Regions from separate parts of the Homo sapiens genome. Here region 1 is linked to region 2. Evidence: fine-mapped expression QTL. A gene starts in region 2. The other region holds a variant in brackets. All regions are shown on one strand. Distances are between the middles of the regions. Region 1 overlaps JAM3 (junctional adhesion molecule 3). Region 2 holds the start of VPS26B (VPS26 retromer complex component B).

Region 1 (5,370 bases), 77 kb before region 2:
GTGGTTCTCTCCTGGGAGGTACCTTCTGATCTGTGGACCATCCAGTTCCACGTAGTCATCAGACAGATTTTAACAGGGTCCTCTGTGTTCATTTTGCCAAAATGTTGCCCCAGGAGCAGTCATCATTGAAGAGCCCTTTTACCAGAATAAAAGCAAGGTTCCACCTCCCATTTCGGATGTTGCCAGGCTTTGGTGTCTCCAGTCCCAAGGGGATTGGTTGTTGGGGAGCTGTCAGGCAGGTATCAGGGAGTGGGTCAGGGAGGAACATGCACAGTGCTGGGGAAGCTGAAAGCAAGCGAGCAGGTGTCGACCTAGTTCTGGACCCAGCTGGCTGTGCTCTCAGAAATCGGCCCCATGATGGGTCCGATTATTTACTTGTCATTCCCTGAAACAGGTGTTCACTGCTGTTCACAAGGACGACTCTGGGCAGTACTACTGCATTGCTTCCAATGACGCAGGCTCAGCCAGGTGTGAGGAGCAGGAGATGGAAGTCTGTGAGTTTCTTTTTTGAAGAGGTTTCATCGCAAGACTGGGAAGTGAATAGAACATTTTAATTTAATATTATACCATCAGCTTAGAGAACTCTTCCGCCATGGGTTAGCTTTCTTCTGGAGCTGCCTAGGTCCACCAGAACCCACTGCACAGTGAAGGGAAGGCTGAGAAAACCGAGTCCAGATAAGCAGGTCCTCAAAACAAAACCTTCTGGGATCTGCTGGTGTTGGGAACGTGGCCAGCCTTGCAACTTTCACTGCAAGTTTAGTAAACTCCATTCTTTGGTAATTGATAGAATTATCAAAATGTAAGGTGGTGTCAGGTCTCCAGAAATTTATCCAGTTATAACCCTCTTGTAGAAAACTGACAGTTTTAGCCCGAGTAATTTTACCTGCAGACAAAGCTTAGCCCCTAGAGTAATGTTATCTCAGGGCTCTGGTTCCCCTAATGGAGGGGCGTTGAGAGGAGGGTGGGGGCAGAGAGGATGTGTCCAAATCACTTGGGGAGCTTTTTTTTTTCTTAAAAAACAAAAAACAAAAAACACCACAGGGTCTTGCTTTGTTGCCCAGGCTGGAGTGCAGTGAGTGCAGTCACAGGTCACTGCATCCTCAAACCCAGCCTTCAAGCCATTCTCCCACCTCAGTCTCCTGAGTAGCTGGAACAACAGGCACACACCACCATGCTCAGCTAATTTTATTTTTTGTAGATACGGGGTCTCACTGTGTTGCCCAGGCTGGTCTCAAACTCCTGGCCTCAAGCAATCCTCCTGCCTCGGCCTCCCCCAGGTGCTGGGATTAACAGGCATGAGCCACTGTGCCCAGCCAGGAGCATTTTTTGAATCCTTCCCTCCTCCCTATTTGGAGCTCTCCTCAGAGCAGCATTTTCCAAAACTGCCTGGTGATACCCATTTGGGACCACTGTTTCACATACAGATTCGAGCCCACCTCAGACATATGCTAGAAATGTCTGTGTGTGAGACAAGCGTTCCGAAGGATTCTTCTCATGTGTCACGTTTGAGAAACTCTGCTCTAGGGTTGTTTTCTCCTGCAGTTTTGCCCCAGACCTACTTTAGCCTATTGACTTTTTAGTGATGAAACTTGGGAATTGACATTTTAACATCAAAATTGCATGCCAGGCGTGGTGGCTCACACTATAATCCTAGCACTCTGGGAGGCTGAGGCGGGTGGATCACCTGAGGTCAGGAGTTCAAGACCAGCCTGGCCAACATGCCAAAACTCTGTGTCTACTAAAAATACAAAAATTAGCCTGGTGTGGTGGCAGGCGCCTGTAGTCCCAGTAACTTGGGAGGCTGAGGCAGAAGGATCCCTTGAACCCGGGAGGCGGAGCTTGCAGTGAGCCGAGATTGCACCACAGAACTCCAGCCTGGGTGACGGTGACGGAGCAAGACTCTGTCTCAAAAAAAAAAAAAAAAAAACGATTGCAAGTTTACTTTTTGTTTTTGAGATGGAGTCTCGCTCTGTC[A/G]CCCAGGCTGGAGTGCAGTGGCACAATCTCGGCTCACTGCAAGCTCCGCCTCCCGGGTTCACACCTTTCTCCTGCCTCAGCCTCCTGAGTAGCTGGGACTACAGGCACCTGCCAACACGCTCAGCCAATTTTTTGTGTTTCTAGTAGAGACGGGGTTTCACCACCTTAGCCAGGATGGTCTCGAATCTCTGACCTCGTGATCTGCCCACCTCGGCCTCCCAAAGTGCTGGGATTACAGGCGTGAGCCACCGCGCCCGGCCTGCAAGTTGATTTTTAAGTGTACATTCATCTTTGAGAACCAATACACTAGGATAAAGGAGATTTTTTTAAAACTTCCAAGTTACTTGGCTCTTGTTGATAAATTCCCTGCATAGTTTTCCATGTGTCGCTTGCTTGAAGGAACGGCTGCCAGAGCCCCATATGAAAGTGACCCAGTGCCTTTGCCCAGTGTATAGACATGAGAAAAGGGTTCCAGGGGGTTTCCTCTCAGAGGGCTTATAGATCGGAGGTCAGGCAGCCGGCAGAGACAAAGCTCTAGTTCTTACCTAGGATTCTTTACTTGTTTGTTTTTTGAGACAGATTCTTTAAGGCTTGAAGCTACCTTTCTTCCCCGCAGCAATCTGCAACAAAGGGAGGCCCTGGAAATTAGGGATTCTTTTCTTCTTGGGATCCTGGCTCCTAATCTTGTCCTCATAACCATTTCCTCCATAAGTAATCTCAGGCATTCAGCCAGAGGATTTTTAAGCCTACAGTGCCAAGCCCACTTTAATACACTTTTCAGTGCGACTGCATTTCAACTGTAGAAGTCTCAGTACTTTTCACGTGTGAAGTTAGGAGTTATGGTGTCCTATATGTTCTAGGCTAGAAGGATTGTAAGTGTTCTCTCTTCTAGCTGGGGTAGGCCTGAGGGGGCAGGGGGCAAGTGGGTTTGGGGTGAAGGAAGGAGGCACAGCAGGGCCAGGGCCTTTTTAAATAACAGATAGTGTGTATCATGGCTTCCACCAAACCTCCTTTTCTTCAGATGACCTGAACATTGGCGGAATTATTGGGGGGGTTCTGGTTGTCCTTGCTGTACTGGCCCTGATCACGTTGGGCATCTGCTGTGCATACAGACGTGGCTACTTCATCAACAATAAACAGGATGGAGAAAGGTGAGCCTGCCTTATGTGAAAAAAGGGAAGTTCAAGCTGGCAATAATATAACAACCCTGTTGCTAAACTGCTCTCTTCTCCTCATAGTTACAAGAACCCAGGGAAACCAGATGGAGTTAACTACATCCGCACTGACGAGGAGGTAATCATTTAGTAAACCTGGAAACCTAGGTGTACCCAGCAGGGAAAACAACATTCCCCCTTGGAAACCACACGGGTCTCCTGGGAAGATTTCTGAGTGATTGTGCAGCTCCTGAGCTCCTCAGCCCCTTCACAGTAACACACACACACACACACACACACACACACACACACACACTAATGGGATTTGTGCTTTGCAAGCGCTAGTGATGGTACTTTTTAAGAATGATTATTCCATCTGTATTTAGCCCATGTTAGACTTACTCCGTGTTTTTCCCTGCTTGCCACCAGGCCCCTTGATGGCTCTAACTGTGTGTTGGCTTTGCAGGGCGACTTCAGACACAAGTCATCGTTTGTGATCTGAGACCCGCGGTGTGGCTGAGAGCGCACAGAGCGCACGTGCACATACCTCTGCTAGAAACTCCTGTCAAGGCAGCGAGAGCTGATGCACTCGGACAGAGCTAGACACTCATTCAGAAGCTTTTCGTTTTGGCCAAAGTTGACCACTACTCTTCTTACTCTAACAAGCCACATGAATAGAAGAATTTTCCTCAAGATGGACCCGGTAAATATAACCACAAGGAAGCGAAACTGGGTGCGTTCACTGAGTTGGGTTCCTAATCTGTTTCTGGCCTGATTCCCGCATGAGTATTAGGGTGATCTTAAAGAGTTTGCTCACGTAAACGCCCGTGCTGGGCCCTGTGAAGCCAGCATGTTCACCACTGGTCGTTCAGCAGCCACGACAGCACCATGTGAGATGGCGAGGTGGCTGGACAGCACCAGCAGCGCATCCCGGCGGGAACCCAGAAAAGGCTTCTTACACAGCAGCCTTACTTCATCGGCCCACAGACACCACCGCAGTTTCTTCTTAAAGGCTCTGCTGATCGGTGTTGCAGTGTCCATTGTGGAGAAGCTTTTTGGATCAGCATTTTGTAAAAACAACCAAAATCAGGAAGGTAAATTGGTTGCTGGAAGAGGGATCTTGCCTGAGGAACCCTGCTTGTCCAACAGGGTGTCAGGATTTAAGGAAAACCTTCGTCTTAGGCTAAGTCTGAAATGGTACTGAAATATGCTTTTCTATGGGTCTTGTTTATTTTATAAAATTTTACATCTAAATTTTTGCTAAGGATGTATTTTGATTATTGAAAAGAAAATTTCTATTTAAACTGTAAATATATTGTCATACAATGTTAAATAACCTATTTTTTTAAAAAAGTTCAACTTAAGGTAGAAGTTCCAAGCTACTAGTGTTAAATTGGAAAATATCAATAATTAAGAGTATTTTACCCAAGGAATCCTCTCATGGAAGTTTACTGTGATGTTCCTTTTCTCACACAAGTTTTAGCCTTTTTCACAAGGGAACTCATACTGTCTACACATCAGACCATAGTTGCTTAGGAAACCTTTAAAAATTCCAGTTAAGCAATGTTGAAATCAGTTTGCATCTCTTCAAAAGAAACCTCTCAGGTTAGCTTTGAACTGCCTCTTCCTGAGATGACTAGGACAGTCTGTACCCAGAGGCCACCCAGAAGCCCTCAGATGTACATACACAGATGCCAGTCAGCTCCTGGGGTTGCGCCAGGCGCCCCCGCTCTAGCTCACTGTTGCCTCGCTGTCTGCCAGGAGGCCCTGCCATCCTTGGGCCCTGGCAGTGGCTGTGTCCCAGTGAGCTTTACTCACGTGGCCCTTGCTTCATCCAGCACAGCTCTCAGGTGGGCACTGCAGGGACACTGGTGTCTTCCATGTAGCGTCCCAGCTTTGGGCTCCTGTAACAGACCTCTTTTTGGTTATGGATGGCTCACAAAATAGGGCCCCCAATGCTATTTTTTTTTTTTAAGTTTGTTTAATTATTTGTTAAGATTGTCTAAGGCCAAAGGCAATTGCGAAATCAAGTCTGTCAAGTACAATAACATTTTTAAAAGAAAATGGATCCCACTGTTCCTCTTTGCCACAGAGAAAGCACCCAGACGCCACAGGCTCTGTCGCATTTCAAAACAAACCATGATGGAGTGGCGGCCAGTCCAGCCTTTTAAAGAACGTCAGGTGGAGCAGCCAGGTGAAAGGCCTGGCGGGGAGGAAAGTGAAACGCCTGAATCAAAAGCAG
Region 2 (5,334 bases):
TAGGATGGAAGAAGAGGAAGAAATACATCACCTATTCACTCAACAAACACTTTGAGAAAATACTAGGGAAGCCACTTATACTTCTAGGGATATAAAGATGAATACTAGAGGGTTCTTGTCCACAAAGATCTCAACATTTCACACTTAGGATACCAAAAAAAGCAGCCTATGATAGAAGAGAGGCCACTGAATTTTGAGTCAGAACGAGGCAAATATCCTGACTTGATCACTTACACATAATTAGTCTCTCCTTCATCATTGGAAATACAGGATTTTTGTGAAACATAATGTGTATAAAGGCCCTAACAATGTGCTAGCCACATAAAAAACAGTCAATAGATGGTATTTATTATTTTTGCTATGGATGAGTGTTAAAATAATAGATATGTAAAATGTAAAATGCTACAGAGCTTAATAGGGAATAGTACTGGGGGAGGAGGGAGAGGAATAAGATGATTCTTCAATTGGACCTGAATGTAAGAGTTTTGCCAGGCAAATAAATGCAGAAAAGTGCCTCCCAGCAAGCACAGTGTAACAAAGCACACAAAGGGAAAGAAATTAAAGTGTTTCTAAATGAACAAAATTGTTACAGTGTTTGCTTGTGGGTATTAGTATCTGTTCAGCAGTTATTATGTGGCAAGTACAAATTTATCTTTACAAAAACCCCTGTGAGGTAGATATTGTACTCCCCATTTGACAGATCAGAAAACAGGGGTTTAGCAAGGATAAACAACCTGCACGGTAATACATGGATGCTATGGGGTAGAGCCAAGGGAACAATCCAAGTGTGTCCGACTCCAAAGGTTATGCTCTTGGAAAATCAAACTGGAGAGAATGGCAGCTCTTATAAAGCATGCCAAGGATGTGGTCATTTATTTAGGAAACAAAGGGGAAACATTAAAGGTGTACAGGCTTGACACATTCAAAGCTGTGTTTTCAAAAGTCGTTCTGCAAAAGTGTGGGGGATGGGCTGGCACAGTTAACATCAGAAAGCAGCTAAAATACTCCTGCAATTGCTCGAGGCTATGATGAAGGCAGCAGCATCAGGAATGGAGCGGGGCTGCCCTGAGACACCTCAGAGGCAGGACAGTGGTAGTGGGCATGAAAGGGGAAGCAGAAATGCCATGACTCCTGGGTTGGTGGCTTGGATGGTGCCATTAGCAGGCTTTGGGAATCCCATTTTCACTCATGTGACGTTTGATGATGTCTGCATGTGAGACATCCAGTGGAACCTATGAACATGAAGTTCAAGAAATAAGTCTGGCGGAAGAAAGAGATTTGCAATTTAAAACCATCTTAATAGGTAAGAATAGATAGGTGCACGAAGACACGCACAGGAAGAAGGGGAAGGCCGAGAAAACAGATGCACAGGCGCTAGAAGAGACTGGCCAACATTCGCTTATTCTAAGGGTGGCCTGGCCGGCTTGAGCCCCCACGGGAAACCTGGCTAGCCGCAATCCTGGCGTGGCACGGCCCTGGGGACCCCAGGCACCGCCGACAGCCGGGCGCCCCCACCCCGCCCCCACCGGCACCCCGGCCCGGGCTTAGGCATCGTCGGGGACGCATAGGACCCTCGCCCTGGCCCCCGGGCCTCCCGGCTGCATCTGCTCACCGAGTCTAAGATCCAGCGGACACCAGGGCTGCAGGCCGCTACCAAGGCCCCGCAACGCCACCATGATCCCAGGGCACCGGCTCGCCGCCGCCGTGCTCAACTTTCAAAGCTCGCTCCCGCGCGCGCGCCGAGTCGTTCCTGTGGACCAATCACAACGTACAGAATTTCCCACTGGCCAACCACCGCGCCGAGCCGTTTCCATTCGCTCAACCAATCACCGGCGTCGTCCGCCGCACGCTCAGAGAACTGGGCGGGCCGAAAAGTGGAAGCCAAACAAGGCTCCTGCGGGTGTTCCGCTAATTCGTTCGAGAAGGAGCCAGGGCCTGAGTTAAACCCTAACAGCGTTTTTCCCGCCTCGTTTTTCTTCAATGGGGGAAAATCTAAAGGGTATCTGAGATAGGGTACTTCCGGTAGTAACTGTCACCTTTGCCCTCGTCAGGCGACATTTCGCGTGCGTGTCAAAGGGCTGCCTTTCCCGTCAGCACTCGAACAGCGTAATATCCGAATGTGAAAGGCAGCCCAACGTGTATCGAGCTAAAGTAATAAGGGAAAAGTAGCCGAAAGCACTCCGAGAAGACAAGACAACTGCAGTTCTGTAGGGACTGCGCGGCACGCGTGGGCCCAGAGCCTGTCCCAGCGAGGTAGCAGCTGCCATGCCGACCGCTGGAGCGCCGGCCGCGCTCTCCCTGCGCATGCGCAGCGAGCTCTCCTCCGGGCTGCCGGGAGTCCCAGGAGCGTTAGGGGGTGCGCCTGCGCGCCGCTGCTCCAGCGCATCCGGGCTGGAGCTCGCCCGCCCCCTCCCCCGCCCGGAGCCGCCGAAGCGCCTCGGTGCGTTGCACCGCCGGAGGCTGGGCAGCTCGCAGCGCTGCTCGGCGCTGGACCCCACCCGGCAGGCGCAGGCCACCCACACCCGGCTCTGTGCGGCTGCCCCCCGCAGCATTGCACGGCCGACCCTCGCCCGCCCACTGCCACCGGCCGCGGGACTGGCTGGGACTGGCTCGGCCGAGGGCACTGCTCCTCGGTGCATTGCTGCTCGGGCGCCGCAGCCCGCAGCCGCCAGCCTCCCCCGGCCGTGCCCCTCCCCCGTGGAGCCGGCTGTCCGTCGGCGCCCACTGCCCGGCGGCAGCGGCGGAGCCAGGCAGCCCCGCGGCGGCCGAGCGCGCTCGCGCATCGGGCCCTCTGGCCTTCTTTACCTAGGGCAGCCCGCGCCCCGGTGCGAGGGAGCGGTCCTTACCGAGACCCGCCCGGCCCGGCGGTGCGATGAGCTTCTTCGGCTTCGGGCAGAGCGTGGAGGTGGAAATCCTTCTGAACGATGCAGAGAGTAGGAAGCGGGCCGAGCACAAGACGGAGGACGGGAAGAAGGAGAAATATTTCCTCTTCTACGACGGGGAGACGGTCTCCGGGAAGGTGAGCCTTGCCCTCAAGAACCCCAACAAGCGGCTGGAGCACCAGGGCATCAAGATCGAGTTCATCGGGCAGATCGGTGAGTCGACCCCCGGGACCCCCTCCCCCAGCGCCGACAGCCGGCCGGGGAGCAGGGTGATTCAGGGCCCAGCTCCTCCGGCGAGGCCTGTCACAGTCGCTTGTCAACTGCAGTCTGAGGCCTGGGGTTCAGCTACAAGTCCCGCCCGTGGGCGACTCCCCCTGCGTTACTGTCCTCCCTGCCAAAAGTGACAGCGCGCTGCCAGGGAGATGGGGACGGCGAGGGCGGGAGGAAGCGCCCTGCTGTGCCTCGTGGGATGGGCACCTTGCCTATGGGTTCTCCCCATTGTCTCCGGCATGCACTCGGCTTTGCTTCTTGTCCCCAGGATTTCTGGGTGAGGTGCTCTGGCCATAGCCTGCAGGTGGGTTTGTTAGGGGGAGACCGCTCTGCCAATACTGGCTTTCCCATCGCCCGGCCATCTGCAACTGCCAGACGCAAAGTGAGGCTCGTCCACCGAGCCCCACTTCCCAGAGCCCGCACCAACCCGTTTTTCTCTTTAGATGTGGTGTGAGAGAGCTAACCAGTTCTCTCTTACCTCACCTCAGCCCTGAACTACCTATGCTTGTACATGTTTCCAGAAAGAAGACCCATAATCTTCAGTCTAAATCTGACTACCTAGGCTGCGTTTCTTAGACTTCTTTATTAGAATGCAAGTTTTCAGTTACCACATTTTCTGTTTAAAGACAAAGAAATGGTGTTTCTAAAAACCACAATTAAGTGATCAGAGTTTCTCAATGCTTTAAACATGATTATTAATCATTGGAACTAGACAGCGCCAGGCACAGTGGCTGATGCCTACAATCCCAGCACTTTGAGAGGCTGAAGTGGGAGGATTGCTTGAGGCCAGGAGTTGGAGACCAGCCTGGGCAATATAGCAAGACCTGCCTCTACCCCCAAAAATTTTTTTGTAATTAGCTGGTCGTGGTGGTGCTTGCCGGTAGTCCTAGCTCCTCGGGGGGCTAAGATGGGAGGATTGTTTGAACCCAGGAGTTCCAGGCAGCAGTGAGCTGTGATAACACCACAGCACTCCAGCCTGGGTGACAACCAGCAAGACCCTGTCTCAAAAAAATAAACAAATAAACAAATAAGAACTAGACAGTAAAAGGCAGTAATGGTAAAGTGATTTGGGGAGCTCCCAGTCAAGACTGGGTCGTCTCCAATTCTAAGCCTTATTTAGACTCTTGTGTATTATTAAAATGCTTGGGTACTTTTAAAATAAGTTGTTTTTGTCGTTAGGTTAGGAGTAGAATCACAGTAAATACCCTGTGAGCTACACACCTCTGGTAGAGAATCCATACCGATACCACACACTGCATACATAACTCTGTTTTTAGAGACTTCCTTGGGGAATCTTTGTTAAACTCTCTTATCCTGAGAGTTTAGCAAAGAATTTGCCGTCTTTTTTTCACAGAGGCAGGAAACACGGAGACACAGGTAGGAGAAACCCTGGGAAAAGGAGGCCTTGTGGCCTGGCTCTTGGGTTCACTGCTCAGCCTCAAGCATTTTGCCTCTGGTATTTAAGAACATGAAATCAGGTTGAAGACTGGCTGATCTTACAGGAAGCTCTTTGTTGTTATTTTAAAGCCAGAATATGAAAGGTCTTAGTGTACCAGAAAAGGGGCCGAAGAGTGAGTTCCATGCCTTCTGCTTTCCTGCTTCTGGGTTCAATGGTGGGGTAGATGGCAAGGTTCCTCAGTAGCAGCACTGTGATGTCTGGCATCGTTTGGCATGTTGTCATGGGATGTTTAGCAGCATTCCCAGCCTCTACTGACCAGACAACAGTAGCATCCCCCACTTGCGACCACAAAAATGTCTTCAGATATTGCTGTATATCCTCTGGAGGGTAAAATCATCTCTAGCAAAGAACCCCAGGATAAACAGGATGAGTCCAAAGCATATTATGCTACGCATAGTAAATAGTCGAGAAATCCTTGCCTATTGAGCAAGGTATTTTTTAGTAGCAGTTTTAAAGTTATTGCATTGATTCTTTGGCTCCATAATAATAATTAGTGTTGGCAGGCATGTTTAGTCTGTGTCTATACCATCACTCCCAGATGGTGGTACCTTACCAGTATGTGAAAGATAACCCAGAATGTCTTCTGCCCCAGACAGTGTGAAATTAGCTGTTCTAGGAACCGTGTCAAGGCCTTCCTCTGGTCTAAATGAAAGGGAGTTGAAGAAACTGCTTGCTGTTCCTGCCCCACCTGATTTCTTGTCTATCTCCTTACTCCTGAGACAT

What was found. PIP is the estimated chance that this variant, and not a neighbour inherited with it, causes the effect.
Region 1: its variant is fine-mapped to the expression of VPS26B in lung (TOPMed, PIP 0.94).

The regions. Positions count from the first base shown.
Region 1 is chr11:134,145,552-134,150,921 of GRCh38, forward strand. JAM3 (junctional adhesion molecule 3) reads left to right here. Exons shown (of 9, transcript NM_032801.5): 6 at 395-494; 7 at 2,996-3,125; 8 at 3,213-3,267; 9 at 3,595-5,370. The coding sequence ends at 3,630. NCAPD3 (non-SMC condensin II complex subunit D3) reads right to left here. Exons shown (of 35, transcript NM_015261.3): 35 at 4,562-5,370. Among named protein-coding and RNA genes, the nearest start is that of SNORD153, 3.1 kb to the right of the region's middle. The variant A/G (reference allele first, on the strand shown) is at 1,975.
Region 2 is chr11:134,222,251-134,227,584 of GRCh38, forward strand. VPS26B (VPS26 retromer complex component B) reads left to right here and starts at 2,421. Exons shown (of 6, transcript NM_052875.5): 1 at 2,421-3,095. The coding sequence starts at 2,873. NCAPD3 (non-SMC condensin II complex subunit D3) reads right to left here and starts at 1,717. Exons shown (of 35, transcript NM_015261.3): 1 at 1,613-1,717. The coding sequence starts at 1,676. RefSeq lists enhancers at 2,158-2,207, 2,998-3,057, 3,158-3,307 and a silencer at 2,328-2,797.